Regions from separate parts of the Homo sapiens genome. Here regions 1 and 3 are each linked to region 2. The links come from fine-mapping of genetic effects on gene expression. A gene starts in region 2. Each other region holds a variant in brackets. All regions are shown on one strand. Distances are between the middles of the regions.

Region 1 (11,079 bases), 60 kb before region 2:
GACTGTAGAAAAGTTTGTTTAAATGTTTTGTGGTTGAGTCAGACCACTTCTGCCCACCAGGGTGTAGATAACTTGTATACACACATGCTGGTAACACACAATATACTTTTAACTGAAGTTCATGTTTCTTAAATTGTTTTATTTAATGTCACAGGAATATAAATCCTACATAGAGATCATGCCCGTTTTGCTCACTGTTGTACTTGGGGCACATTAAGGGTGTTTAATGATAATTGCGTGAATGGATATTTTGGCCAAAAAATGCACTTTAAAAATTAATGTCATTGTATTTATACTGCAAAACTCAGCCCTATGATAAATTTAACTTCTAATCGCTGTCTCCCTTCATTTGACAGTTAAAATAAAATATGGGCATATATGTATAGATGCACAGAATAGACTTATTCTGGTCTCTTTCATCCAGCCTCTTAAATCAGCTTACTTTGTACCTTTCAGGCAGAACCCTGATCTCTATAAATATCCTCTTCCCTATTTAGCAAACCCTGATAATCCTGTGATCCCATCCTCAGTAGTTGGATTAATATGATGCTGTATTATATTTGCACTTGTCTTCCCTAGACCATGCTTGAAATGCCATTTATCATTTTGCTGGAAGAAAACATTAGCTGAACTTTGCATTTCTCTGTAATTTCACTCAAAGGTGAAGTATCTGAAGTTATTATTTCCTAATAAGGAAAATTACTCATTAGAAATGTAGAAGCACTGTATTCTACACCATTAGGTTAATAAAGTTTATCTATAGTTAGAATTTTTTTTTTTTTTGAAACAGTCTAGCTCTGTGGCCCAGGCTGGAGTACACTGGTGTGATCTCGGCTCACTGCAACCTCCACCTCGCAGGTTCAAGCGATTCTCCTGCCTCAGCCTCCCAAGTAGCTGGGAATATAGGTGCCCACCACCATGCCTGGCCAATTTTTTGTATTTTTAGTAGAGGCAGGGTTTCACCATGTTGGCCAGGTTGGTCTCAAACTCCTGGCCTCAAATGATCCGCCAGCCTCAGCCTCCCGAAGTGCTGGGATTACAGGCATGAGCCACTGCACTCAGCCTTATAGTTAGAATGATTTCTTTTTCTTTCTTATCTGTGCTTTGCTCCTCTCCTTTTAAGGTGAATAAACATTATGTTTGTCTCTTTTTTTTTTTTTTTTTTTTTGAGACAGAGTCTTGCTCTGTCACCTAGCCCATAATGCAGTGGCCCGACCATAGTTCACTGCAGCCTCAAACTCTTGGGCTCAAGCCATCCTTCTGTCTCAGCCTCCTGAGTAGCTGGAACCGCAGGTGCACACCACCACACCTGGATAATTTTTTTTTTTTTTTTTTGGTAGGGATATGTGTCTCGTGTTTGTTGCCCAGGCTGATCTTGAATTCCTGGCCTTGAGCTATCCTCCTGCCTCAGCCTCCCAAAGCACTGGTATTACAGGTGTGAACCACTGTGCCTGGCCTTGTTTTTCTCTTAATTCTTTAATATCAAATGTAATGAGTGTGGAGCAAGTCTCTGCCTGAAAAAAAAAACAGTATTTTTAGTAACTTCTTTAAAAGAGACACATGAGGAAAAACCCAAAACATTAATTTTAAACTTTGAAAATATTTTATAGGCCGGGTGCAGTGGCTCACTCTTGTAATCCCAGCACTTTGGGAGGCCGTCACGGGCAGATTGCCTAAGGCCAGGAGTTTGAGACTAGCTTGGGCAACATAGTGAAACCCTGTCTCTACTAAAAATACACAAAATTAGCTGGGTGCGGTTGTACACATCTATAGTCCCAGCTACTCCGGAGGCTGAGGTGGAAGGATCACCTGAGCCTGGGAGGCTGAAGCTGTAGTGAACCATGATTTCACCACTGTACTCCAGCCTGGCATTAGGAGTGAGACCTTGTCTCAAAAAAAAAAAAAATATATATATATATATATATATAATATATGGTTTTATTTTTTGTTTTTGTTTTGAGATGGAGTTTCACTTTTGTTGTCCAGGCTGGAGTGCAGAGGCATGATCTTGGCTCACTGCAACCTCTACCTCCTGGGTTTAAGCAATTCTCCTGCCTCAGCTTCCCAAGTAGCTGGGATTACAGGCATGTGCCACCATACCCGGCTAATTTTGTATTTTTAGTAGATACGGGATTTCGCCATGTTGGCCAGGCTGGTCTCGAACTCCTGACCTCAAGTGATCCACCCACCTCGGCCTCCCAAAGTGCTGGAATTACAGGTGTGAGCCACCACACCCGGCCAAAAAAAATTTTTTTTAAAATAGGAAACAGATCTTCCTTCATAATTTCTGCACTAAGCAGAAAATGCATGAGAAGAACTTTGCCTGTGTCATTTAATGTACTAATTTGATAAATTCCAGATGTTTTATAATTTATTTTAAGAGGTAATGAGACCTCTTCTTTTCACTTACAATCAGGAACTCAGGATGAGTAGTAAAATGGGTTTTCCTCTTAGCCTTTTTATGTCACCAGTCCCCTAAGGATCTCAGAATTTTAATTTTTACTTTTCTGAAAGGTGATATTATAAATGAGTGATTGCAATATAGCTAATAGAAACCAGGGAGACTTCTTGTAAATATAGTTTTAAGAAGGAATGCTGTCAAAGTATTCAAGACCAGATGAGATAAAAACAGCAAAAAAAAAAATCTTGCCTTTGGGTGGATCGCTTGAGCTTAGGAGTTCAAGACCAGCCTGGGCAACATGGCAAAACCCCATCTCTACAAAAAATACAAAACTTAGTGGGGCGTGGTGGTGTGAGCCGGTAGTCCCAGCTACTGGAGAGGCTGAGGTGGGAGGATCGCTTGAGCCCAGGGAGTCGAAGCTGCAGTTAGCCGTGTTCACGCCACTACATTCCAGCCTAGGCCACAGAGGAAGACCCTGTCCCCCCAAAAAAAAGAAAAAGGAAAAAAAAGTCTGGCCTTTTAAAAAGCCAGACTTCTGTTTGTTTCCAATCTATTCAATCTCTGTCCCCCAAATCTTTTGGCATAGAATTTGTCTAGCTTAGACTAAACCTTCCATCTTACTGCTGGAAAAAATTGAGGCATAGAAAGGTTAATGTGGTCCTTAGCAAGTCAGTACAGATACAGTACTAGAAGTGGTAAACAAAGAGTCTCTGAGGCAGAAAGGAATTCTTAATAATTATGCATATTTGCGTATGATTGTCCAAAGATGCAGTTGTTGAGAATTATTTCTCAGAAGTATCCTTTGATCTTAGTGAACAAACTGGTTTGAATTATTGCCTGGTACAATGTGAATAACAAATACAACCATTTTGCATAATTCTAAGACTCAGTTTGAAGGAATTTCTTCTTGGGCTGGGAGATTAAATTATATGCCCTTTAAACTCTGGGATTCTTTGACTCTTGTTCTAGCCATGTGTCGTTAGAACAAGATTATCAGCTATAGCACAGAACAAATAACTTTCCTATAAAGATGTTCTTATGTTCTTAACTAAAAATCAACATGGTTTATTTATTTTTTCTTTGTTTTCTTTTTCTTTTTTCTTTTTTTTTCTTTTTGAGACAGAGTCTCACTCTGTCACCCAGGCTGGAGTGCAGTGGTACAAATACAGCTTACTGCAATCTCGACCTCCCAGGCTCTAGCAATTCTCTCACCTCAGCTTCCTGAGTAGCTGGGACCACAGGCCTGCGCCACCATGCCTGGCTTATTTGTTTTTTATTTTTTGTAGGGACAGGGTCTCACTATGTTGCCAGGGCTGGTCTTGAACTCCTGGGCTCAAGCAGCCCTCCTGCCTTGGCCTCCCAAAGTGCTGGGATTATAGGCGTGAGCCACCATGCCCAGCAACATGCTTTATATTTCTATCCATAAAAAATAATAAATAATGGCCAGGAGAGGTGGCTCATGGCCTGTAATCCCAGCACTTTGGGAGGCCAAGGTGGGCTGATCGCTGGAGGCCAGGAGTTCAAGACCAGCCTGGCTAACATGGCGAAACCCCATCTCTACTAAAAATATAAAAATTAGCTAGGCATGGTGGCACATGCCTGTAATACCAGCTACTCTGGAGGCTGAGGCACAAGAATTGCTTGAACCCAGGAGACAGAGGTTGTAGTTGAGCCGAGATTGCACCACTGCACTCCAGCCTGGGTGACAGAGGGAAATATTAGATTAACAGTAAAAAATTCCTTGGTTAATTTTGGTGGGTTTTTGTTTTGTTTTGTTTTGTTTTGCTTCATGGATGCCTTTTATGATTTCTTAACTTCTCTGTTGTACCAAATTTTTCATCTAAAAAACACAGATTATCTATACCATGCACCTATCCTGTAGGGTCTTGTGAAAGATGATAGTAGAACATTTTGAATGAAGAAGTCTTGAAGATGTGCTGAAATAGATAAAATCTTTTTTTTTGAGACGGAGTCTTGCTCTGTCACCCAGGCTGGAGTGCAGTGTGCAATATCGGCTCACTGCAACCTCCGCCTCCCAGGTTCAAGCGATTCTCCTGCCTCAGCATTTCGAGTAGGTGGGACTACAAAGCGCCTGCCACCACGCCCGACTAATTTTTTATATTTTTTGTAGAGACAGGGTTTCACCGTGTTAGCCAGGATGGTCTCGATCTCCTGACCTCGTGATCCGCCCACCTTGGCCTCCCAAAGTGCTGGGATTACAGATGTGAGCCACCGTGCCCGGCGATAAAATCTTTTTTAAAAATTTTTTCCTTTTAATTTTTGTGGGTCCATGGTGTTATATATTTATAGGGTACATGAGATGTTTTGATACAGGCATGCAATGTGAAATGATGAAATAGATAAAATCATTAACAGGAAGCCCAACTATAATTTTATATAGCCTTTTTATATATTTTTGTATAACACCTTAAAATCGTGTGTTAACTTGGGTGTGTCATCCTATTTAATTCCACAAGTGTTATCTAGTGTCTGTTTGATAAGTGCCAGGCATTATGGGACAAGTATAGCCCTTACCACGAGAAACTTTAGTAAAGGAGAAAAATACAAACATCAGTTACCTAGTTTGATATGATGAATGTTCTGCTCTAAGTGTATGTAAAGGGCTTTAGGAACACAGATGGGGTAGAGTTCACACTCCCAGGAGATTTGGGGTGACTGCTAAGCTAGATTGATTGGAGGAGCAGAAATAAGCCCTGCTACTTATTAAGTTGCTGAATTTACTGTAGCACTTCTACCGAAACTTGGAAAGAGGAAGCAAATGGAATAAGTGGCATT[A/G]GAATGAAAAATAATAACATAAGCTCTCCATAACCAATAACTTTTTTCAAGGAGAAGTTATTCTCATATCCAGTTAATATCACAGTCAGTGCCCCCAGAGTAATCTGTCTCCTTTGTGGTTGTTGAAGGGCTTGCTCTCAATTTTGCGCAAGTTGAAAAGTGCACCAGACCAGGAGGTGAGAATACTTCTCCTGGGCTTGGATAATGCTGGCAAGACCACTCTTCTGAAGCAGCTTGCATCTGAAGACATCAGCCACATCACACCTACACAGGTGAGCACTGCCTTGGCTCCAGATGCCGTGTGACACAGGAAGACGATAATAGCAATGTGAAAGACAAAATGGGAAATACAGTTTTGTCCACTTCCAAGTTTTGTCTCTGAGAAAAGTCTATACAATCTAAAGATAACCAGATTTCAAAAATATGTAAGAGATTCCATTCTCATGAGGTATTTAGAGTAGTCAGATTCATAGAGACAGAATGCAGAATGGTGGTTACTGGAGCTGGGGAGGGGGAATGGGGAGTTATTGTTTAACGGGTACAGTGAGTCAGTTTTGCAAGATGGAAAGAGTTCTGTGGGTAACGGCCCACAGTGTGAATGTATTTAATGCCATGGAACTGTACACTTTAAAATGGCTGAAATGGTACGTTTTATGTTATAACGTTAAAATGTGTACGCAGACACACTTCACAGTACCCACTTCATCAGGCCACCCCACTGCAGCATCTGCATCCCACTGGGCTTCAGCCTCCACACAGCACCTTTCAGCACATGCACCCCTCTTCCGTCTCTGCCCCACCTTCCCCACCCGCACATGTCCTCAGCAGCTGCATATTGTACGTGTTATGTTACAATTTAAAATATATGTATACATATATACACATGTGTGTGTTTGTGTGTATATAGACAAATCCAGCAGATCTGAGTACCTATATTCTTTTTATTTTTATTTTATTTCTTTAAATTATTTATTTTTTGAGACACAGTCTTGCTTTGTCACACAGGCTGAAGTGTGGTAGTGCAATCTTGGCTCACTGCAACCTCCGCCTCCCAGGTTCAAGCGATTCTTGGACCTCAGCCTCCCTAGTAGCTGGGATTACAGGCGCACACCGCCATGGCCCGCTAATTTTTGTATTTTTTTGTAGAGCCAGGGTTTTGCCATGTTGGCCAGGCTGGTCTCAAACTCCAGACCTCAATGATCCACCCACCCCAGCCTCCCAAAGTGCTGGGATTACAGGTGTGAGCCACCACACCCAGCCTATTCTTTTTTAAAAAATAGCTTTATCTTCTCTGATTATGAAAGTAGTGCATGTAGAAAACACAGAGAAAGTATAAAGGAGAAAACTCTGAGAAAAACCATGGTTAATATTTTACCGTGTACTTTTCAGACTTAATAAATACAAATATGTATCAATTTTTAAAAGAAAAAAAAATTACCTGCCTTTTTTTTTTTTTTTTTTTTTTTGGAGACAGAGTCTCGTTCTGTTTCCCAGGCTGGAATGCAGCAGTGCAATCTCAGCTCACTGCAACCTGCGCCTCCTGGGTTCAAGTGATTCTCCTGCCTCAGCCTCCCAAGTAGCTGGGACTACAGGTGCACGCCACCACGCCTGGCTAATTTGTTGTATTTTAGTAGAGACAGGGTTTCACCGTTGTTGCCCAGGCTGGTCTCGAACTCCTGAGCTCAGGCAGTCCACCTGCCTCGGCCTCCCAAAGTGCTAGGATTACAGGCGTGAACCACCTTGCCCGGCCAATTACCTGCCTTTTTAAATCCAGTCTCATCAACCTTCCTCTTTCCTGAAAAGGGCAAGCAAGCAAAGCATAAAGGATAAGGGAATGATAGTGCTCACAGCGTGGAGGTTTAAAGATGAGTCCTGGGCCGGGCGTGGTGGCTCATGCCCATAATCCCAGCACTTTGGGAGGCCGAGGTGGGCGGATCACAAGGTCAGGAGATCGAGACCATCCTGGCTAACATGGTGAAACCCCGTCTCTACTAAAAATACAAAAAATTGGCTGGGCGTGGCAGTGGGCACCTGTAGTCCCAGCTACTTGGGAGGCTGAGGCAGGAGAATGGCGTGAACCCAGGAGGTGGAGCTTGCAGTGAGCCGAGATCATGCCACTGCACTCCAGCCTGGGCGACAGAGCGAGACTCCATCACAAAAAAAAAAAAAAAAAAAAAAAAAAAAAAAAAAAAGACAAGTCCTGGGCACCATGGCTCATGCCTGTAATCCCAGCACTTTGGGAGGCCGAGGTGGGTGGATCATGAGGTCAGGACATGGAGACCATCCTGGACAACATGGTGAAATCCTGTCTCTACTAAAAATACAAAAATTAGCTGGATGTGGTGGTGTGCACCTGTTATCCCAGCTACTCAGGAGACTGAGGCAGGAGAATGGCTTGAACTTGGGAGGCGGAGATTACAGTGAGCTGAGATTGTGCCATTGCACTCCAGCCTGGCGACAGAGTGAGACTCCGTCTCAAAAAAAAAAAAAAAAAAAAAAGACAAGACCTGATTGGAAAAACTGTAGTGGGTTTCTTAGAACTCATTCCCTGTAGGAAATCCTAAGAATGCCTGACCTTTGGCTAAGCCAACAGGGAGAGCTTGTTGGTCTTAGTCACTTTAAAGTGTTTGAGCATTAAAGGTTAGAGGTTTTAGCAAAACCAGAGTTATTTTCCATCACTGTACCGTGATAAGACCCTGGTGTCAGGTTTGAATGGCTGTGCTGGTGTGCATGCATACTTCACGGCCCATGAGTCTTACTGATTCACAACTCTTTATGGAAAAGTCATTTCAACTGCTACCAAATGAACAATTTTTACAGCTTCTGAACAAATTTAATGTATAGCCCAAGCAAATTACAGTAATCTAGCCTAGAAGGGCTGAAAACACATATTAGTGTGTCAAGATTTCTGCCAGAAAAAGAAGCACTAGTTTTTGTGTGCATGCGCTTGTGGGGTTTTTTTGTTTTTGTTTTTGTTTTTTTAGTATTAGCAATAAACTGTGTCTCTCAAGAACACTAACGTGAAGACTTCCACACTGCAAACACAGAAATAAACTCAAAGTTAGGAACCCAAAGTTCTCATTCTAACCTTCAGGCTTTGTTTGATGTGTTATAGGTAACTCTGATATTATATTGTGTCAAGGTTTCATATTCTTTAAAAACAAACTTTTATTATGTTTTTTGTTTTATATTAGAAAAAGTAATAAATGCTCATTGTAGTAAATTTAGGAAGTATAAATAAATACAATTGAGAAACTAAAAGTCACCTATAATGCCCAGTCAGACATACCACTGTTCACATTTAGGAATGTATCAAGTTTTTTTCTATGCATATATATGATGGGTATATTTAAAATAAAAAATAAAAATGGCTCATAGAGGATATACTAGCTTGTATCATCTATATCTAGATATAGATTTTTTTTAGAGACGGGGTTTCACTCTGTCGGCCAGGCTGGAGTACAGTGGCACCATCCATAGCTCACTGCAGCCTCAAATTCCTGGGTTCAAGCAATCTTCCCACCTCAGGCTCCTGAGTAGTTAGGACTGCAGGCATGTGCCACCACACCCAGCTAATTTTTTTTTTTTTTTTTTTTTGGTAGAGATGGGGTCTCACTACATTGCCCAGGCTGGCCTTGAACTCCTGGGCTCAAGCAGTCCTCCCGCCTCAGTCTCCCAAAATTGGGATTATGGGTGTGAGCCACTGAACCTGTCTCCTCTTGTTCACTTAATAATAGATCATGAACATCTTTCTATGTTATTATATATGTAAATACTTATGTAATATACATCTCTAAATGTTTTTGCCCATTCATCATTATTATTTCCTCAGAATAAATTCCTAGATTTGTTGGGTCTCATGACTTATAGCTGTTTAAGCCCATTGATACATATGGTCAAATTCCAAGATTCACTGTTACTTGTATTCCAAGATTTACTGTTATTTATTTTCTGCTTTATTCCAGAAAGGATTCAGTATTACTGAGTTTGACATTTAATATCATTGTTGAGTGTGGAATTTTTAAATACACTAAAGTAGTTTTGCCAGTGAGTCACAATGAAACTTTTTTCAATAAGCTTAAGCCATTTCCCTTTAGAATTCTCGAACTTCTAATGTATTCAGTCATTGGCGTGTTAGAGAAGTGAGAGTCAGCAGGATCCCCAGTTATCCTCCAGAGACTGTGTATCCGCAGTGGAAATTGGGTGGCAATATTCCTGTCCTATTGCACTGTGCCTTCTCCTTCTGTGCCAGGCAGCAGTGTTGACAGGCTACCACATGAAACAAATGTTTGTGGAGGCATCCCCAAAGCTATCTAACTCCAGTTATTCTGGATGAAATGTCTCTTCTGTGGTAGCAAGCTGTTGACTGGGTTTTTCAAATCCTGGTTTCCCTATGTAATTTTTGCAAGAAGACTTTAAAAAAAATTCTTGTTCATGCAATACATTCTCTGGGAACCCCAAAGGGCTTGTTAATTTGTTTCTTTCCACACTGACCCCCACCTGGCAATTCTGCCTGTCCCTGATTTGCTCACCTTCCTCAAAGTTTCACCTCAAGTAACTGTCTTAAAAATGAAGACTTCCAGCCCGGTGCAGTGGCTCACACCTGTAATCCCAGCACTTTGGGAGGCTGAGGCGGGCGGATCACCTGAGGTCGGGAGTTCAAGACCAGCCTGACCAACATGGAGAAACCCCATCTCTACTAAAAATACAAAATTAGCCAGGCATGGTGGCGCATGCCTGTAATCCCAGCTACTCGGGAGGCTGAGGCAGGATAATCGCTTGAATCCGGGAGGTGGAGGTTGCGGTGAGCCGAGAGCACAACTCTGCAAAAAAAAAAAAAAAAAAAAGACTTCCGGCTGGGCACAGTGGCGCATGCCTGTAATCCCAGTGCTTTGGAAGGCCAAGGTGGGCGGATCATGAGGTCAGGAGTTTGAGACCAGCCTGACCAATATGGTGAAACCCTGTCTCTACTAAAAATACAAAAAATTAGCCGGGTGTGGTGGCAGGCGCCTGTAATTCCAGCTACTCGGGAGGCTGAGGCAGGAGAATCACTCGAACTTGGGAGGCGGAGGTTGCAGTGAGCCAAGACCATGCCACTGCACTCCAGTCTGGGCAACAGAGCGAGACTCTGTCTCAAAAAAAAAATGAAGACTTCCTTTTCAAGTTCAAGTTCATCATAGTTCCCTATGAAAGCACTTTTTTTTTTTTTGAGATGGAATCTCACTCTGTCGCCCAGGCCAGAGTGCAGTGGCATGATCTCAGCTCACTGCAACCTCTGCCTCCAGGGTTCAAGTGATTCTCTTGCCTCGGCATCCTGAGTAGCTGGGACTCCAGGCATGCGCCAACACGCCTGGCTAATTTTTGTATTTTTAGTAGAGACGGTGTTTCACCATATTGACCAGGCTGATCTCGAACTCCTGACCTCCTGATCCATCCGCCTCGGCCTCCCAGAGTGCTGGGATTACAGGCGTGAGCTACGCACCCAGCCTGAAAGCACAATTTTAACTGACCACTTGTTTGTTTCCATCAGTGTCTGCAACTGAGGGCTCCACCTCCCTACTGGGCTGATATATTCGAGTTACAAACCCAGCCTCCCCCATAGCATCCTCAGTTCTGCTCTTTTTCCTGATTAATCCCTGTAGGAAATTTATTTTGAGCTGCTCTTGAAGAATCTAATCCTCTAGATTTGTAGCTTTTGCCTCTTTAAATTTAGCTTGTGTTCTTTCCTGTTGAGTCTTCAGATTCAGCTTTTTTTTTGTTGTTAGTTACATGAAATGTCCTGTTAAATTTTACCATCCTGAAGATTCATGGGCATGTGATGTGTGTTGGTTAATTAGAGCTATTCTCATTTGGAGTTATCCTCAGTAATTATATATGTATAT
Region 2 (5,000 bases):
AACCCCAGTGGCCTGGGGCACCAGAAAGAATCAGGGGCCTGGGGAGGGGGAACCTGGAGAAGGATGAGGCTCAGGCTGCCACTGCAGGGCACAGCTGCTGAACGCACAGAATTGCACATCTGGCCCTGATGCAACCCACTACTTCTGAGCCTGCCCACACCAGGCACAAGAAAGCACGCGCATGCACGCGCACGCACACACACGCACACACGCACACACACACCCTGCGGAGTTGCCGACAAAGTTCAGTGCCTGCTTCCATCCAATCCACGAGTCTGGAAATGAGGGGCCTGCTGGGGGGCACCCCAGGGAATACTCTGCATGCACATGCCACCCACCCACCCCTGCCTGTGCCCTGAACTGTAGAGACAGGAGACAGGTGCATTGGAGGGCGAAGCACACAGTCTCAAAGACATTCAAAAACACAGACACCTAAAGCTATCCTCCTACACCAAGTCAGGTATAATGACGTTTTCTCCCCCACCCCAATTAAAGACATCCCTAGAACTCAGACCAGCTACAGCAGCACTGTGGGTGCGGGCAGGCATCCGCCCATCGCCCAGGTTGCTGCCCCTCCCCTGTTCCTTTCAGCCACATCTCCTTTCCCCTCCTCTCATTTTCCACTGCCAATCCCAGGACAGAACTGGACAGCCCTCCTTTCTCCTGCCTCTGCACTTTTCCCGGCCTCCTCCCCCAGCCCTTCCATCTTTATTAATAGCAGCAGCTTCCCAATACTGGGGAAAGTGTGGGCTGTGCCTGCCCTGAACGGGGATGGAGGACACAGGGGGTGGAGGACACACTTCCTTTAAGAAACCAGAGGCCTATCCTGGCACACAAACCCAGGGCTAGTCCATCCGATTGGAAACTAATTATACAGCAAATCGTATTTGCTGCCCCCGCCCCAGCCTGTGGTGGCCCTCCTGCCTTTTGTTGGTTGTATGTGTATGTTTTTTAATTGCTAAACAGTGACTCATTCTGACTGGTCCCCCCACACAGGAAACAGCCCCATCTCCAATCATGCCCTGAACAGAGCTTCCTCATAGCCAGCCTCCGCACTGGCCTCCACTAACCTCCAGGGATCCCCACCCAGAGACACTCCCAGTCCCACCAGAGTGCAGCCTAGCCCCCAGATATCACACCCAGGCCCCAGGCCCCAAGGTGGGGCTTCAGAGAGGACTCCTCGGTGTCAGGCCAACCCCTTCATTTTGGTATGACTCAACCCTGAAAGCCAGAGGACTGGGGAGGGACCTAGGAGGAGCCCCCTCCACTGAAGGGGACGGAAGTATTGCCTCAGTCCAGCTCCAAAACCAGGCCCAGAGGCCTGAGGGGGGAGGCGGTTTGACATTGGCCGCGGCCGCAGGGTGTATACAATGGGAGGGGACGCGGTTCCGTAATCACCCAGCCGGCAGCCCAGGGGAGCCAGCTGCCTGAAACCAGATTTCAAGGCGGCTCAACCTTAAACCCACAGGATTCTTTTTCCGTCTTCCACTTCCCCTCCCCAAATGTGGGAGGGCGGCGAGAGGGCTGTGCTAGGCGAAAGGGCCAGGATGATGAAGACAGATACTTGAAGGCTTGTTCATGCGGCCCGTGCGACACACAGGCACACAGGGCAGCGATTCTCACACAGGGAGAGCCGGCTCTCGGGAGGAATCCAAATAGCGGAGCCGCTGTCGGGGCCTCGCTGGCTGCCCAGGCCCTGTCCAGAGAGACGGCCGGAGTTCTGCTCTCCCTCTGGAAACTCCCCCCACTCCCCCCCCAGTGTGTTTCCAATAGCGCTGAAAACTAACATGGCTGCTTTTGTTTACTTCCTCATTGGTATGCCAGCATCATGGATCATGTCAGCCACAGCAGCGGCACCGGGACACTCATTACATAAACAGCAGCTGGAGAGGCAGGACCGGGGTCACTGCCTCGGTGACTTCCCGTAGGGCCTACAGCAACAAGACTGGGGGAGGGAGCTGCGCACCACAGAAAAGCAACACCCAGACTCTACCCCTGACGGTCCCACACCCCAATCCCATAAAGCACTCAGAAGACGGACCCTGTGCGCACAGGTGCGAGAATGTACCAAGTAGCGACCCGGGGCCCTTCTTCCCAGGACCCTGTCCCCAAACTTTCAGAGAAGAGTTTGGCCAGGGGCCACTGGCCTGATGTCACAAGAGTCAGCCTGTCGGGATGGGTGGTCCCGGGGCGGGAGAGAGGAAGGGACTGTGTGTCTGTGTGTGTGTGTGTGCGCGCGCGCGCGTAGGGTACTTGCCCGGATTTCATTCCTTCGGATCTCCACGTCGCACACCGAGTGTCCCTGATGCGCGCCGCTGTAGTAGCAGCAGTACTGGCACACGGCCACCTGCTCGGCCTCGCAGTGGTAGAGGCGGTAGGCGTTGTGCTGCGGGCAGCTCCAGGCCCGCACGTCGTCCGCCTCCACCAGGAGGTGCCCGCGGGCGGTGGAGGGCTGCTGCAGGTGCGTCTGCACGTGGGACTGGCAGCAGGGCGCCTCGCAGCGCAGGCAGACCTTCTGCGCGGGCAGCGGGGGGCCGCGGCGGCAGAACACGCAGTGCAGCGCCGCCGGCGGCTTCTCCACGTGCAGGGCATTGAACTTCTCCACGATGTTGGTGAGCTTCAGGTTCTTCTCCAGGCCCGGCTTCTGGTTGTAGGCCTGGTTGCACTCTGGGCAGCGTACGAGGCCGCTGTCCTTGGCCCACGCCTCGCCGATGCAGCCCCGGCAGAAGTTGTGTTTGCACGGCAGCTGCACTGGCTCCACGAAAACGTGCAGGCAGATAGGGCAGATGAGCTCCTCCTCGAAGCAGTTCTTCCAATTCTCCGCCATGGCGGCCGCGGGCAGGGGGCCGGGGCAGGCCTCCCCGACTCCCCAGCCCCGGGGGTCCGTCCGGAGCCGCTGTAGGCCCACCGAGCCCCGAGCTCCGGCCCCAGCCGGCCCCGACGGTCGCTCAGTCAGCAGCGCCTTCCGCGTGCCCGCCCCCCGGAGGAGGGAGCCGCGGTCCTCACGCCGCGCGCGCAGCGGGCTGCGTCTCCTCCTCCTCCCGAGCGCCTAGCGGGAGGCGGCGGACTGCGCCAGGGCCGCGGCCGGGACTCCAGCCTTGGAGGGGAGCGCCGGGGTCCAAATTCCATATAAGAGGCCGCCTCCCCGTCGGCGCGGCTAGGGCAGTGGCGGCCCGCGGCCTGCGCTCGTCCCCGCGGCTGACATTGGGGCGCGCCCCGCGGCAGACGGAGCTTGGGAGCAGCACACTTCTTCCGGCGGCGGCGGCAGCGGCGGCTCCTGCCTGGCTCGTCGGCGCCGCACCTCCCTCGCAGGGGCCGGAGCCCGGGGTCTGCGGGGCCAGGAGGCGAGGGCGGCCGCGCCGAGGGCTGCTAGATCCGGACGGGGCGGGAGGGGCAGGCCGGCGGTCCCCGGGCCACGGTGCAGGCGTCCCCCGGCTGGCTGGCCGGGCGCGGGCTGCGGGGCGCGGGCGGGCCGACTCCGGGGCGCTGCGTGCGCGCAGGGGCAGTCATTCAGATGAAATTCCAGTCCCCGGCCAGAGACACCAGCCCGCCTCTGCCTTCCTCCTCCCTTCACAAATAGAAACGGAAGGGGGAGGGAGAGAAGTGGAAAAAAAGGCAACCGGCGAGGGAGGGAGGGAGAAGCCCCGGCGGCGCTCCGGCCTGACCCCCGGGCGGCTACTTCTGCGCTCCCCCGAGGCCCGGCGCCCCCGCCGCGGAGAGACCCCGCGCGCCCGTCTCCGCGCTGGGCGGGCGCCCGGGCTCTGCCGAGGAAAACAAGGATTGATCAAACTAGAAAGGAATTTTTCTCAACTGCTAATGAACAGGAGGCTCGGCTCCCGGCCCTCCCCTCCCCTCCCCCGGCCCTCCCCCTTCGCCCCCCCGGCCCCCTCCTCCCCACTTTCTTTTCTTCTCGGCCTCTGCTGGGGCCTGGAAGGCTCGGGGCTGCGGTCGGAGCCAGCCTGCGGCGGCGGGGCCAGGCCGAGCCGCCACCCTCAGCGCCCAGCCATCTTGGGCTCCGCGGCGGCGGCCGGGGTCTGGGCGCGCTCGCTGAGGGCCCCGCGGCGTCCTCTCGCTCCTGATTCTTTTTTTTTTTTTTTTGGTGGGATTTTTTTTTTTCCAAGGGGAGGGCTGGCGGCCTCCAACAAATTAGGAGAGAGAGAGGGAGAAAATGCCAAGTCCCGATTTCTCTCCACCTCTGCTCCACCCACCCCGGTCCTGTCCAAAAAATAAAAGAAGATGAGAATTGGAAGAAGTCGGCAGAAAGGCGAGAGCCCGCGGTCCCCGGCTGCTGCCCAGGCGACGCGTCCGGGGCGGGCCCGCACCCGTTGCTCGGTCCGAGGTCCGTCTGTCTGCCCGCGGCTTCTCAAGGGAGGGGAGGGCGCTTCGGGCAGGGTCTCCGCAGCCGCTGTCGCCTCAGAGCTTTATCCTCAGATCAAAAAAGAAAAAACAGGAAGAAAAAAATCCCAACCCCAACACTCTCATCACAGCCACCTTCAGCCATCTTGCGCGTATTATTATTTCAGGAATAATCTGTTTAATAAAAATACCTGCGTATCCAGCCCCTCCCCCGCGTCCTGGGGTCCCCGCCCCCTTTTAATAATAATCTCGATAATAAAAACGATCGGCGGGCCGGGCAGTCCGTGGCGGCCCTTTCCTGCCTCGACTTGCTCGGGCCCGGCTCTCCCCCCGCGAAGGGGCGCCCCGGGGTGGGGGTGCGTCCCCGTCACCCGCGCGGGGAGGAAAGGGCGCCCTCGCCGCCGCCGCGAGGAAGGCGGCGGCGGAGATGCCGCGGCCCGCGGGACCAGCCGGAGGGGCACTCGGGGGTCCCGGGGCCCCCGCCACGGCCCGGCCTGGGAGTCCGCAGCCGGCCGTATACAATGGGTTCGGAGCAGAGCGGGGCAGGCAGGGTGGGGAAACGGGAGGGCCAGGGGCTGCAGCGAGCCGAGCTCCCGGGCTGGGGCGGAAGGAGACGGGGGGTGGTGTCCCTACATCAAGGCCGG
Region 3 (11,079 bases), 26 kb before region 2:
CTGCAAAAATGTCAATGCAAAGAAGAAATAAAATCTAGACGAATGGAGATGCAGGAGCTGCGGGAGCCGAATTCGGTCCTGAAAAACACTAATTTGCTGCTTTCTGACCAAATGTTTTTCCATCTGTGTACAGCTCCAGCTGTTTGAAGAGAGGGAACAACACGGTTTAGAAAGAATCCCCATTCCAGCAGTAGATTTAACTGATCTCTGAGGTTCAGTATCATTTTTCAAATAAAGGAATTATATTATTTCCTCTGCATAATTGAAATAGTATTAAATGTCTCAAAGCACATGATTAGAAAATGAGATCTTTTAAATGAGCAAGAGATTGCATTGCAGTTTAGACAATTCCAGTGGGCTTTTTTTTCCTCTCAAAAAAAAAAAAAGAAAAAGAAAAAGAGGAAGAAGCAGCTTTGCTGAGTTCATTTATTTACTGACCCGTCCCTTGCATTCCCTCCATGGTTTTGAAACCACAGACAGTGTTTGCTGGTGCTGTCAGTGATTTTTACCGTCACTAGCCCAGCCAGGCTTCAGTCTGTCCGACAGGAAGCTGCTGGGTGGGGGTGGGGGGAGAAAAGGCAGATAATTAAACCATCTCATCGTCTTGCAGGTCGGAGACTACGTATGTAATCCTCACTCTTTGGACAGAAAAAAAAAAAAAAGTCTTTCTTGCAGACAAGTCACTACAGAAACATACCCCATCCCACCCACCCCTGCCTCTGCCCCAGCCAGCCACACAGAGAAGCAAATTCTTATGACTTTTGACTGTAATGACATCTGGAATGTAAGGAGAGGTGGGAGGTTTAATTCCAGAAAAATTACAAGGTCCTTAAAAAGCTCTCACATCGAGGGCTCAGGCTAGCGTAAACAGGCTTTCTCCAGCTCAGTGGAGCAGTGAGCAGCCGACTCTGAGATTAGCTGGCTTCTCCACGGCCGTCCTATAGACAGGATTTCTAAAGCTCAAAGAATTCTGTGTTTAAACGATCACAATAGGCCGCTGCTATCAGATTTTAGAAATAAATGCAGCTTTACCATGAACCTGCTCCACTGAGAAAAGCCAGGCAGATCGATTTTTAGATCAATTTTTACAGTGCTGGCAACTTGGTGGTGTGGGATGCTCCTGGATGGAGAGGGTTTGCTGCTGGGGAGGACATGGGTGTGTGTGTGACTGCAGGGGTCGTGTCCAAGGAATCAAGAGTCACCCCAGCTGCTGGGCTCCTCTGCCTCTCTGCAGCAGAATGTCCGTCCTCTGTTGATTGATTGGAGAGGAATAGCAGAACATTTCTCCTGCCCCTCGTTGCAAAACGAGCTTGTTTCCCTGAACCTCAGAAATCCTCAGCTTCAAACATGGGGAAACAGGCCAGAGCATTGCCCGGCTCCTGAATTAAACTCTGTTCTGGTGCCTGAGCTCAGGGGTTTTCAGAGAATGAATAAGAGACTGTCCAGTGACTGGTGGGTCCCTGGGGGCCAGCTGCCTTCTCATCCTGGGAGGTGGCCCTTCCCAAGCCCATCAGGGCGTGTGAGCAGACTGAAGGGGCCGCTGCAGCCCCTGGCCCTCAATACCCAGCTGCTTCTGGCTAAGAGTGCAGCAGAGACTGAGGCATAGCCAGCTTCAAAAGCGATCTGACATGAAAGTCATTAACAAAGCCAGCCGTGAAAAGGTGCCCCAGAGTTGCTGTGGACAGACCTGTAAGGACTTGCAAAACAAAAGAAAGTGAGGGGTTTTTTTAACCTCAGAGCTAGCTGCTCTCTGCAGCCTCCTCCACTGGCTTCTCTGGCTCACCCAAGCTCTCCCTTACAGAGGCAACACAGAATTATAAGGAATCAGAAATCCCCCTTCTACCAGGCTGCAAATGTGGCTCTAGCACTTGCAAATTGTTTTTTCTTCCGAATAGTTCAGCAGGGACAAGTTATCTGAGGGGCAAAATGCCTGCTTGGAGGTCTGCAATTTTGGAACACTGCAGTATGGAACTTTGGCATTGGAGGGTCTGTAAAATATTTTTGTTCTTTTACCACCAACTTAGGGGACTGTTTTAAAGAGCCATCCCAAGGCCTCTCCTAGCAGGCAGAAGCCACTCCTCTGATAACGGCCTCTGTAAATGTTCTGATTTGCTCTCAGCTGCAGAGACACAGAGACACTGCAGATGTCACACGCTTTCATCTTCCCTTTGAGCCCTTTTGAACCCTCCTGGGGCTCTGGGGTAGATGAGAGAAGCCTGAAAAAGGCAGAGTTTGAAAGCTCCCATTTAAAAACAAAATACTTTTTAAAGCCCTCTTGCCTCTTCCCTGCCCACTCCTGCCCCCTGACCAGAAGACAGAATTTGAAGCTGGAAAGGGAAGACCCCTTTTCCCCTCCTCCTGTCCCCAGTGAGTCTTAGCGAGACTTTTGCCCTGCGCACAATTGCATCTGAATGTGCGGGGGAGAGGGCTGGGGGCCGGAGGGCAGGCAAGGCCTGGGGGGTGCTCGTGATATGTGCTCAAGCCAGTTGTGGGAAAAACTCGAGTCCTCCCCTCCTCCCGACCTACCCCGTGTGGCTGCTTTTGGCTGGATTCCCTGCACCCAGTGCAACACACCCTTTCCCCTTCACTCTCCCTTGGTTACTATGGAAACAAGGGTGTCATTGATGTGGGCTGAGCTGGGGAACATGTCGGTGCACAGCTGAAAGTCAGCGATTATGCCGGCGGTTAGAAATGTGCCAGGGTTAAAGGAGTCCGCAGCTCCCACGGCTGCTGGGAGGACATGGTCCTGCCCCCTTCCTTCCTCCCTCCCTCCGTCTCCACTTCTCTCTCCTTGCTTTTGACAAATTTCTTTATTCCCCTCTGGACTAAAGTAGTGGCTATTTTTGTGCCACTCTGCGCCCCACCCTCACTGTTGGCCGCTCCTTATCCGGCCTGGCCTGGAGGGTGACACCATGTCACCCTCACCAGGACTCGTCTCTCCATTCCCGTCAGAGTTTGCTTTGATTTCCCTTTCCTTTCCTTCTCGGGGACCAGTTCTTACTTCCTTTTATTTTTAGCTCTGCACTCCATGTGGTTTCAGGGTTCAGTCTGATCCATCAAAAGGTTCTTTTTTTATAATCCCTTTTGAAAATGATAATCAAAGGAAGAGATGTGGTGTTTGGTCATGTGGAAAACTCAATGTATAATTTAGACGTCTGTCAAAAATCCGACAAATAAAATTTAGCTGGAACGAAGGCAGCCTGGAATGTGTTGTGTTCTTTGCTGAAGCTCAGAGAGGGCCTGAAATGTGTTTGTCCTTTCAGGGGTTAGCTTTCTTCAAGAGGTTTTTTCCAGAAGGATATATATATAAAATAGGATACCAACAATAGCAATAATAGCCCTTCATTAAGCCCCTCCTACGTGCCGGGCACTTCAGATACATCGTGGTGAGCATTAGTCCCCCTTTGCAGCAGAGGACATTGAGACATTTGCCCCAGTTAAGGAATTTGCCTGAAATCACAGAGCCTTTAAGTGCAGGTGGGGCCTGGAGCCTGGGTCTCAATGCTCAGCAAGCTGCCGCCTCTGGAGAACAAAAACAGTCAATGGCAAGGCCGGATCACGCCTGTAATCCCAGCACTTTCAGAGGCCAAGGCAGGTAGATCTCCTGAAGTCAGGAGTTCAAGACGAGCCTGACCAACATGGTGAAATCCCGTCTCTACTAAAAATACAAAATTAGCCGGGCGTGGTGGCACGTGCCTGTAATCCCAGCTGCTTGGGAGGCTGAGGCAGGAGAATTGCTTGAACCCAGGAGTCAGAGGTTGCAGTGAGCTGAGATCGTGCCATTGCACTCCAGCCTGGGCAACAGGAGAAAACTCCATTGCAAAAAAAAAAAAAAAAAAAAAATTTGTCAATGGCTCATCTCCCAGCAGCCTCAGCCCCCCCAGCCTCTGAGTGCTACTTCTGCCCAGCCTCCTCCCCTCAGCCTCTGACAAGCACTGCTCCCCTGGGTTCCCTGCCCCAGGTGTTGGGTGTCCTCTGCTCACACAGCACAACCATAGACTGGGTTTCATCCTTGGCCAAGTCCAGCCCAACAGACAGGAAAAAGGGAGAAGAAATAATTAGCAAAGTTAGGGCCTTCAGGGAGACTTGCAGTTACATAGTACCTAATACTGGATCTTCCATTTACAGAGGGTTCCGAGAGGGAACAGACCTGCCCAGTGTTACATGGAAGGTGCAGAGTTGGCAGCTGTCCCGGGCTCTGCCCTCTGGAGCAGAAGAGTTCGTTGTCCCTTCAGCAGGCTAGAGACACAGCAGCACAGCTGGTCCCAAAGGGCCTCACCATTTGTGTGTGTGTGTGTGTGTTTTGTGTTTTTGAGACAGGACTTCGCTCTGTCACCCAGGCTGGAGTGCAGTGGCACAGTCACAACTCACTGCAGCCTCAACCTCCTGGGCTCAGGCCATCCTCCCAACTCAGCCTCCCAAGTGGCTGGGACTAGAGGCATGTACCACCATGTCTGGCTAATTTTTTTTTTTTTTTTTTGAGACAGTCTCGCTCTGTCGCCCAGGCTGGAGTGCAGTGGCGCAATCTCAGCTCACTGCAAGCTCCGCCTCCCGGGTTCATGCCATTCTCCCACCTCAGCCTCCCTAGTAGCTGGGACTACAGGCGTCTGTCACCACGCCGGCTAACT[T/C]TTGGGGTTTTTTTGTATTTTTAGTAGAGATGGGGTTTCACCGTGTTAGCCAGGATGGTCTCAATCTCCTGACCTCGTGATCTGCCCACCTCGGCCTCCCAAAGTGCTGGGATTACAGGCGTGGGCCACTGCGCCCGGCCTTTAAAGAGCAAGCTGTGGGCAGAACTAGCTGGTAGCTGGAAGCAGGAGAAAGAAGAATTAGGGTTGCCAGATACATTACAGAACATTCAGTTAAACTTGAATTTCAGATAAACAATGAATAGTTTTTAATTCAAGTATATCCCATGCAATATTTGGGACATCAGTATAACATTAGAAAAATGCATTGTTTACCTTAAATTCAAATTTAACTGGCCATCCTAGCTTTTTGGTTTTGTTTTGATAAAGCTGGCAAAACCCTTCCCAGCACTCCCTGCCCAAAAAAGGGACAGCGCAGTGCAATTAAAAAGTGTGGCTGGGTGCGGTGGCTTATGCCCATAATCCCAGCATTTTCATGTTGACTAGGTCAGCACAGGGAGATTTAAAAGAGATCTCATGTAAACAAAGTGCCTAGATCTAGGACAATACCTAGCACATAGAAGGAACATTCCATGCCTCAGTTTCTTTTTCTTTTCTTTTTTTTTTTGGAGACGGAGTTTCGCTCTTCTGCCCAGACTGGAATTCAGTGGCACGATCTCGGCTCACTGCAACCTCCACCTTCCAGGTTCAAGCGATTCTCCTGCCTCAGCCTCCCGAATAGCTGGGATTACAGGCATGTGCCACCATCCCCAGCTAATTTTTGTATTTTTCGTAGAGATGGGGTTTCACCATATTGACTAGGCTGGTCTTGAACTCCTGACCTCAGGTGATCCACGTGCTTTGGCCTCCCAAAGTGCTGGGATTATAGGCGTGAGCCACCGTGCCTGGCCCTCAGTTTCTTATCTTCAAAATTGGGCAATAATCATGCTGCACAGTTGTCAAGAGGATGAGATGAGATGTCCGTACAGTGAGTAGTAGGTGCTAAATCAATGGTAGCAAATATAACAGCTGGCAGAAAGTCTGGAGTCCAGGCTTTCCAAGGCCCCTAAGACCTCTACCTCCCACCTTCCCTCCCATGTGGCTCTGTGACTTTCAAGGCCAGCAGCCCCCTCCCTTCGGGACTCCCAGGGCCACCCCAACCACACCTCCTGCTTAGCTTTGTAAGTGGGAAAGGCTCTTATCAGAGGCTCCTGATTGGCTCCAGGCGCAAACACAGTTTAGTGCTCAGTCAAGCTGCATCTCACGGCCTCTGTCCCTGTCTCCCCCTCATCCCCCTTAATTGCAATCTGTTCTGTAATTTCCTTTTCCAACACTGCAGAACACAGAGAAGCTGCAGCCACCAGGAGCAGGGGCAGGGAGGAGAGAAAGAGAGCCCTGGCTCCCTGCAGTCATTCTGCTGGTCCAGCACTGGTGTGTGTGTGTGTCCAGAACCAACCACACACAGGCGTGGAAGTGCAGCCAACAACCAGTCCCCCACAGTGTCAGAACCGGGGGAAAGAGTTAAGGAGGTAGCCACTTGCACCAGGTACTTCACAGTTACCTTATTTAATCCTCGCAAAGACACTGTTAACTGTAGGTATTGTCATTCACAGTATGAGGATGGGGCTCATAGAATTTGAATCACTCGCCCATGATCGCACAGGAAGAACTGGGCACAGTCAGGATTTGAACTCAGGCCTATTTCACTGCTGGGTCCCAAATTTATACCACAATACCTGTTTGCTTTTGGCTCCTAATGCTCTGCTCTCAGAAAAGGAGCTAAGGAATCCTTCTGCACGAAGGAACACGGAACAGTTTCTTCTCCAGAGCGAATAGCAGTGTCCCAGGGACAAAAAGCCTTTGCTAAAGAAATGAAATATTAATGACAGAACTGCAGAAAGCAAGCTGTGTCCAGGAGGGGGCAGGGAGAATTTGCTTGGATACCTGAAGCTGAGAGGTACAGGGTTGGGGTCAGAATCCCATTTAGCTAAGCCAACTGCTTCTCCTTTGAGTCATTAGTGGGTCTCATCCTTTGATTAGCCCTACAAGATAGCCGTTTACTGTCCCTAGTTCCCAGATGATGAAACCAAGGCTCACAAAGGTTAAGTCACTTGCCCAGAGTCACACAGCTAGGAAATGGCTTGACTGTGATTCCCGCCAGCCCACTTGCTGAAAGCCCATTTTATTCCATGATGCCACCCCAGGGAGGTAGGTGAGAGGCGGCCCTCGCTTTTTGCCACTCACCCTGTTTTCAGGATCCAGAAGACCCTGCCCTGGGGTCCCAGAGTCAGCTGCTGCTCTGGATGCCACCAGTAGAGGGGGCAGGAGGTGCCCAGCCCCACCCTTACAACCAAGGAAAGGGCCTGGGGAGGCTGTTGTAGTTGGGGCTTTGGCCTGGGATCAGCTGCCTCCACTTCCACCCAGGACTCAGAAGCCCCTGTGCCAGCCCCCTGGAGGCACAGCCCTAGGAGCCCCCCAAGACCGCTGGAGCAGGAGGAGAAAGAGCTCACCATAGGAGACACACGGGCTCCGTCCACAGGCAGGCCCTCTTGGCCACATTCCTAACACTAGAGAGGCCTGTCACCCAGGCCACCACTGACTCATGTGGGAGATTATGCCCCACACCAGAGTACAAGGCGTGGCACCAGCTGCAGGCCCCTCAGCCAGTTCCCTTGGGTAGGGCACAAGCTGTACAGCTACACTTGGCCCTGCCTGTGACACCAGCCAGACCCTTCCCTGGGCCTACATTTCAGCACTGTTCCCCAGCCCAGGCCCAGGCCCACCTAGAGCACCTGGTCCCGGGCTGGAGCCCAGCATTCTCCTTCCCTAGCCCTCCTTGCTGCCAGGACGTCAGAATCCTGCAGAATGATGCTGGTCCACCAACCTCAGCCCCCTTGGATTCCCTTTGGAGGCACAGAGCAAGCCTGGTCTAGGGTTGTCACATAGGAATGGGGCTTCCCTCGAGTCTCCAGGGGACAGTGCCAAAGCAGTTTTCCTGCTGGAATGCTACAGATGGCTTCTGGGAAGATGGGGATAAGAAGCTTTGGTTTGTAAACAACAGCCCATCCTGGACCAAGGGATCCAATCCAGCCCAACTCTTCCCTCACTCTCCCCAGCTCCTATGGGGATGCAGCCTGGATTTCATCCTTACTCATGCCCCAGGCCCCTTTCCCGCCCTGAGACCTCCAGATCTGGCATAGCAGCAGGTCGGAAGAAGAAAAAGCAGGAGGAAGGGGCATTCAGGGGCTGAGATGCTGATCCAGGCAGTGGGGGAGGCATCTGCACAGCTGCAGGCAGCCCCCCTACCCCCAGTCTGTGAATGGGTACATCACCCTCTCCCGCCCGCCTGCCACTGCTCCTGAAACAGTTGGTCCTAATGAACACTAAGCAAGCAGGGCAGCTGTGAGCATGATCCATATGCATGGGAGGTGTATATTTATCCTCACATCCCGCCCCACCCTGCAGCTGCTGCCATCCCCTATGCCAGGAGGGTGAGTGGGCACCAGGGCCCAGCCTGCTCCCGGGCTCCCAGGCCCCCACTTCTCCCAGCCCTCCCTCCCCAACCCACGCCCACAGCCTTCACTTGACCCATTTTGGAGGCAGAAGTTTGTATGTGTGTTTGAGAGAAAGAGAGTGCACACATCATTTCCCTGGTTGGTGCTTTTGATTTCCTCTGAAGCATCTTGATTGCGGATGTACAATGGCATCTTGCTGCCAGTGCTCCCTCAGCAGCTTCTGGCTCCACGCCGCCTCCTCCCTGGAGCCGGGATTTTCTGCTGACTCTGGGGCCCATGGCTAGCTGGCAGGGAAGGGGAAAGCTTGATCCAGGCTTCCATCCCTTGGCTGAGCAGCAGGACCTGGACACCCAGCCACCTGCCTTCCCACTCCTTAGACTGGGTTGAGGGTGCACCCTGAACCCCACCTGTCTCTCCCTTGGCCCTCCCACTGCCTCCCAGCTTGGGCTGGACTCCCCTGCCTGATCCTCCTTTGAGGGGTTAGCGCCATTATTAAAATGCAGTACCCTGCTAAGATGCCTTCAGAGGCCCTGCTGCTGTGGGTCCCTCCAGCCAAACCATTTATCCTGTTATTCAAGGCCCTGCTGATCTGACCCCAAACCTTTTTAATGGACTTATCAGCCATGGACTCCACACAGCCTTTGTGCCCAAGTCTCTCCTCACTACTCCCCCAAGCACAATCCCTACAATTTCATTTTCCCACCTGTGTGCACAGCGACCTCCTCCCTGGGATGTCTGCCCCCTCTTTTGAGCTTTCTGTTCCTTTAGGGCGTGCTTCAAGTCCTACCTCCCTAAGAGGACAGCCGGGTACCCTCTAACCCTCTCCCTGTGAAACCCTTCATCCAGCAAATATCTCTCGAGCAGAAGCAAAACCCCTCCCATAGCCTGTGCCCTGCCCTGTCCCCTCACTGCCTTGTCTGACCTCATCACTTGCTACTCTCTCCCACCCCCAACACTTTCCAGCTGCCCTCGCCCCCTGACTCTTCCTGAAACAACATTTTCTGCCTGAGGCCTTTGCACTGGTTCTCTCTGCCAGAAGCATTCTAGCTCCAAGTATCCCCCAGATCTTGCCCCCCCAAATTCTGAGGTTTCTGCTCAATGCCACCTCCTCAGCCAGACTGCCCAGTCCTCCCTGTAAACACTTCCACACCCCCTCCCCTTCTGGTATCCCCTGTGCCCCCACCTGCTTTGCCTTCCTGGACTGTACTTATCGCCAACTCATGGTGACTTTTTTTTTTTTTTTTTGAGATGGAGTTTCATTCTTGTTGCCCAGGCTGGAGTGCAGTGGTGCGATCTCGGCTCCCTGCAACCTCCGCCTCCCAGGTTCAAGCAATTCTCCTGCCTCAGCCTCCCAGGTAGCTGGGACTACAGGTGCCCGCCCCGCCACCACGCCCGGCTAATTTTTTTGTATTTTTATTAGAGACGGGGTTTCACCATGTTAGCCAGGATGGTCTCAATTTCCTGACCTCGTGATCCGCCTGCCTCGGCCTCCCAAAGTGCTGGGATTACAGGCATGAGCCACCGTGCCTGGCCTTTTTTTTTTTTTGAGACGGAGTCTTGCTCTGTTGCCCAGGTCAGAGTGCAGTGGCACGATCTCGGCTCACTGCAACCTTTGCCTCCTGAGTTCAAGTGATTCTCCTGCCTCAGCCTCCCAAGTAGCTGGGACTACAGGCGCATGCATCACCACGCCCGGCTAATTTTTGTGTTTTTAGTAGAGACGGAGTTTTGCCATGTTGGCCAGGCTGGTCTCGAACTCCTGACCTCGGGTGATCTGCCCACCTCGGCCTCCCAAGTGCTGGGATTACAGGTGTGAGCCACTGCGCCCAGCCTCACAGTGACTTTTTTTTTTTTTTTTGGAGACGGAGTCTCACTCTGTCGCCCAGGCTGGAGTGCAGTGGTGTGATCTCGGCTCACTGCAACCTGCGCCTCCCAGGTTCAAGCAATTCTCCTGCCTCAGCATCCCGAGTAGCTGGGATTACAGGCATGTGCCACCATGCCTAGCTAATTTTTTTGTATTTTTAGTAGAGACAGGGTTTCACCATGTTGCCCAGGCTGGTCTCGAACTCCTGAGCTCAGGCAATCTGCCTGCCTTGGCCTCTCAAAGTGCTAGGATTACAGGCATTAGCCACCAGGCCCGGCCTCTCACGGTGACTTCTTTAGGGTTGATTGTCTAGCTCTTCCCCACAGATGATCAGCTCCAAGATGGCAGAGTTTGTTTTGTTCGCTGCTATATCCCTGACATTGAAGCAATGCCTGGAACAAGAAGGAGCTCAATAATGACTTATTGGATGAATGAATGAATGAAACAAACATACAGGCATTGTGCTAGGCCCTGAAAAAAAAATCAGAGCTGACTCACATTCACGTCCTCCAGGCACTCACAGCCTAGTTGGACATTAAGCCAGGCAGCTTGCAACTTAACCTGTGAACCACAATTAGTTAAAATCCAAAGTGAGGGAGCGAAGTGCATGGGAGTATGGCTGGCCCAAAGGAACATAAACATTGTGATAGCTGCGGATGCCTGAAAGTCACCTATGCCAGCACCAGACCTGGCACTCATATGCATCGTCTCATTACCCCTTAGCCACTCTCTGCAGAGGGGGCGGGGGCCACGAGGGCTGCACAGAGGTGAGACTTTGAGGCTAGAGAGTCAGTCCAGGCAGAGGGTCAGCAAGTCCAAAGCCAGTGAGGCATGGAAGCACGCAGGTTGCAGGCAGACTGACTTCCAGCATATGGTGTGCTGGGTGGAGACTAGGGAGCTGCAGCGGGCGGGACTGGCATTTGGTGTGGCTGGTAAGTCCCTCTTAGGCCACAAGCTGCACATCTGCATCCATGCCCCCTCCCAGCTCAGTGCCCTGCAGCAGGCATGCACATGGGTAGTGTCTGATGGCAACAACCAATTCACAACCAGGCAGCCAGGACATTTATTTTTATTTATG

Direction of the effects. Alleles are on the strand shown, and positions count from the first base shown. SD is a standard deviation of normalised expression in the study named. Not every link is listed here.
With allele C in place of T in region 3, the expression in pancreas of the gene that starts at base 2,966 in region 2 is lower (small effect, 0.39 SD a copy in GTEx).

What was found. PIP is the estimated chance that this variant, and not a neighbour inherited with it, causes the effect. A credible set is the group of variants that fine-mapping cannot tell apart.
Region 1: its variant is the best candidate, but not a certain one, in a credible set for the expression of TRIM8 in whole blood (INTERVAL, PIP 0.79).
Region 3: its variant is the best candidate, but not a certain one, in a credible set for the expression of TRIM8 in pancreas (GTEx, PIP 0.55).

The regions. Positions count from the first base shown.
Region 1 is chr10:102,699,736-102,710,814 of GRCh38, reverse strand. It overlaps ARL3 (ARF like GTPase 3), which reads left to right. Exons shown (of 6, transcript NM_004311.4): 2 at 5,326-5,469. Among named protein-coding and RNA genes, the nearest start is that of ARL3, 9.1 kb to the left of the region's middle. The variant A/G (reference allele first, on the strand shown) is at 5,198.
Region 2 is chr10:102,642,445-102,647,444 of GRCh38, reverse strand. TRIM8 (tripartite motif containing 8) reads right to left here and starts at 2,966. Exons shown (of 6, transcript NM_030912.3): 1 at 2,258-2,966. The coding sequence starts at 2,827. TRIM8-DT (TRIM8 divergent transcript) reads left to right here and starts at 4,256. Exons shown (of 1, transcript NR_186489.1): 1 at 4,256-4,653. RefSeq lists silencers at 1,315-1,531, 2,817-3,796, 3,877-3,976, 4,247-4,306, 4,637-5,000 and enhancers at 1,707-1,806, 2,587-2,716, 2,818-3,573, 3,574-4,328.
Region 3 is chr10:102,665,846-102,676,924 of GRCh38, reverse strand. It overlaps ARL3 (ARF like GTPase 3), which reads left to right. Exons shown (of 6, transcript NM_004311.4): 6 at 1-3,194. The coding sequence ends at 31. Among named protein-coding and RNA genes, the nearest start is that of TRIM8, 27 kb to the right of the region's middle. RefSeq lists enhancers at 2,571-3,120, 6,024-6,625, 6,626-7,227, 7,228-7,830. The variant T/C (reference allele first, on the strand shown) is at 4,629.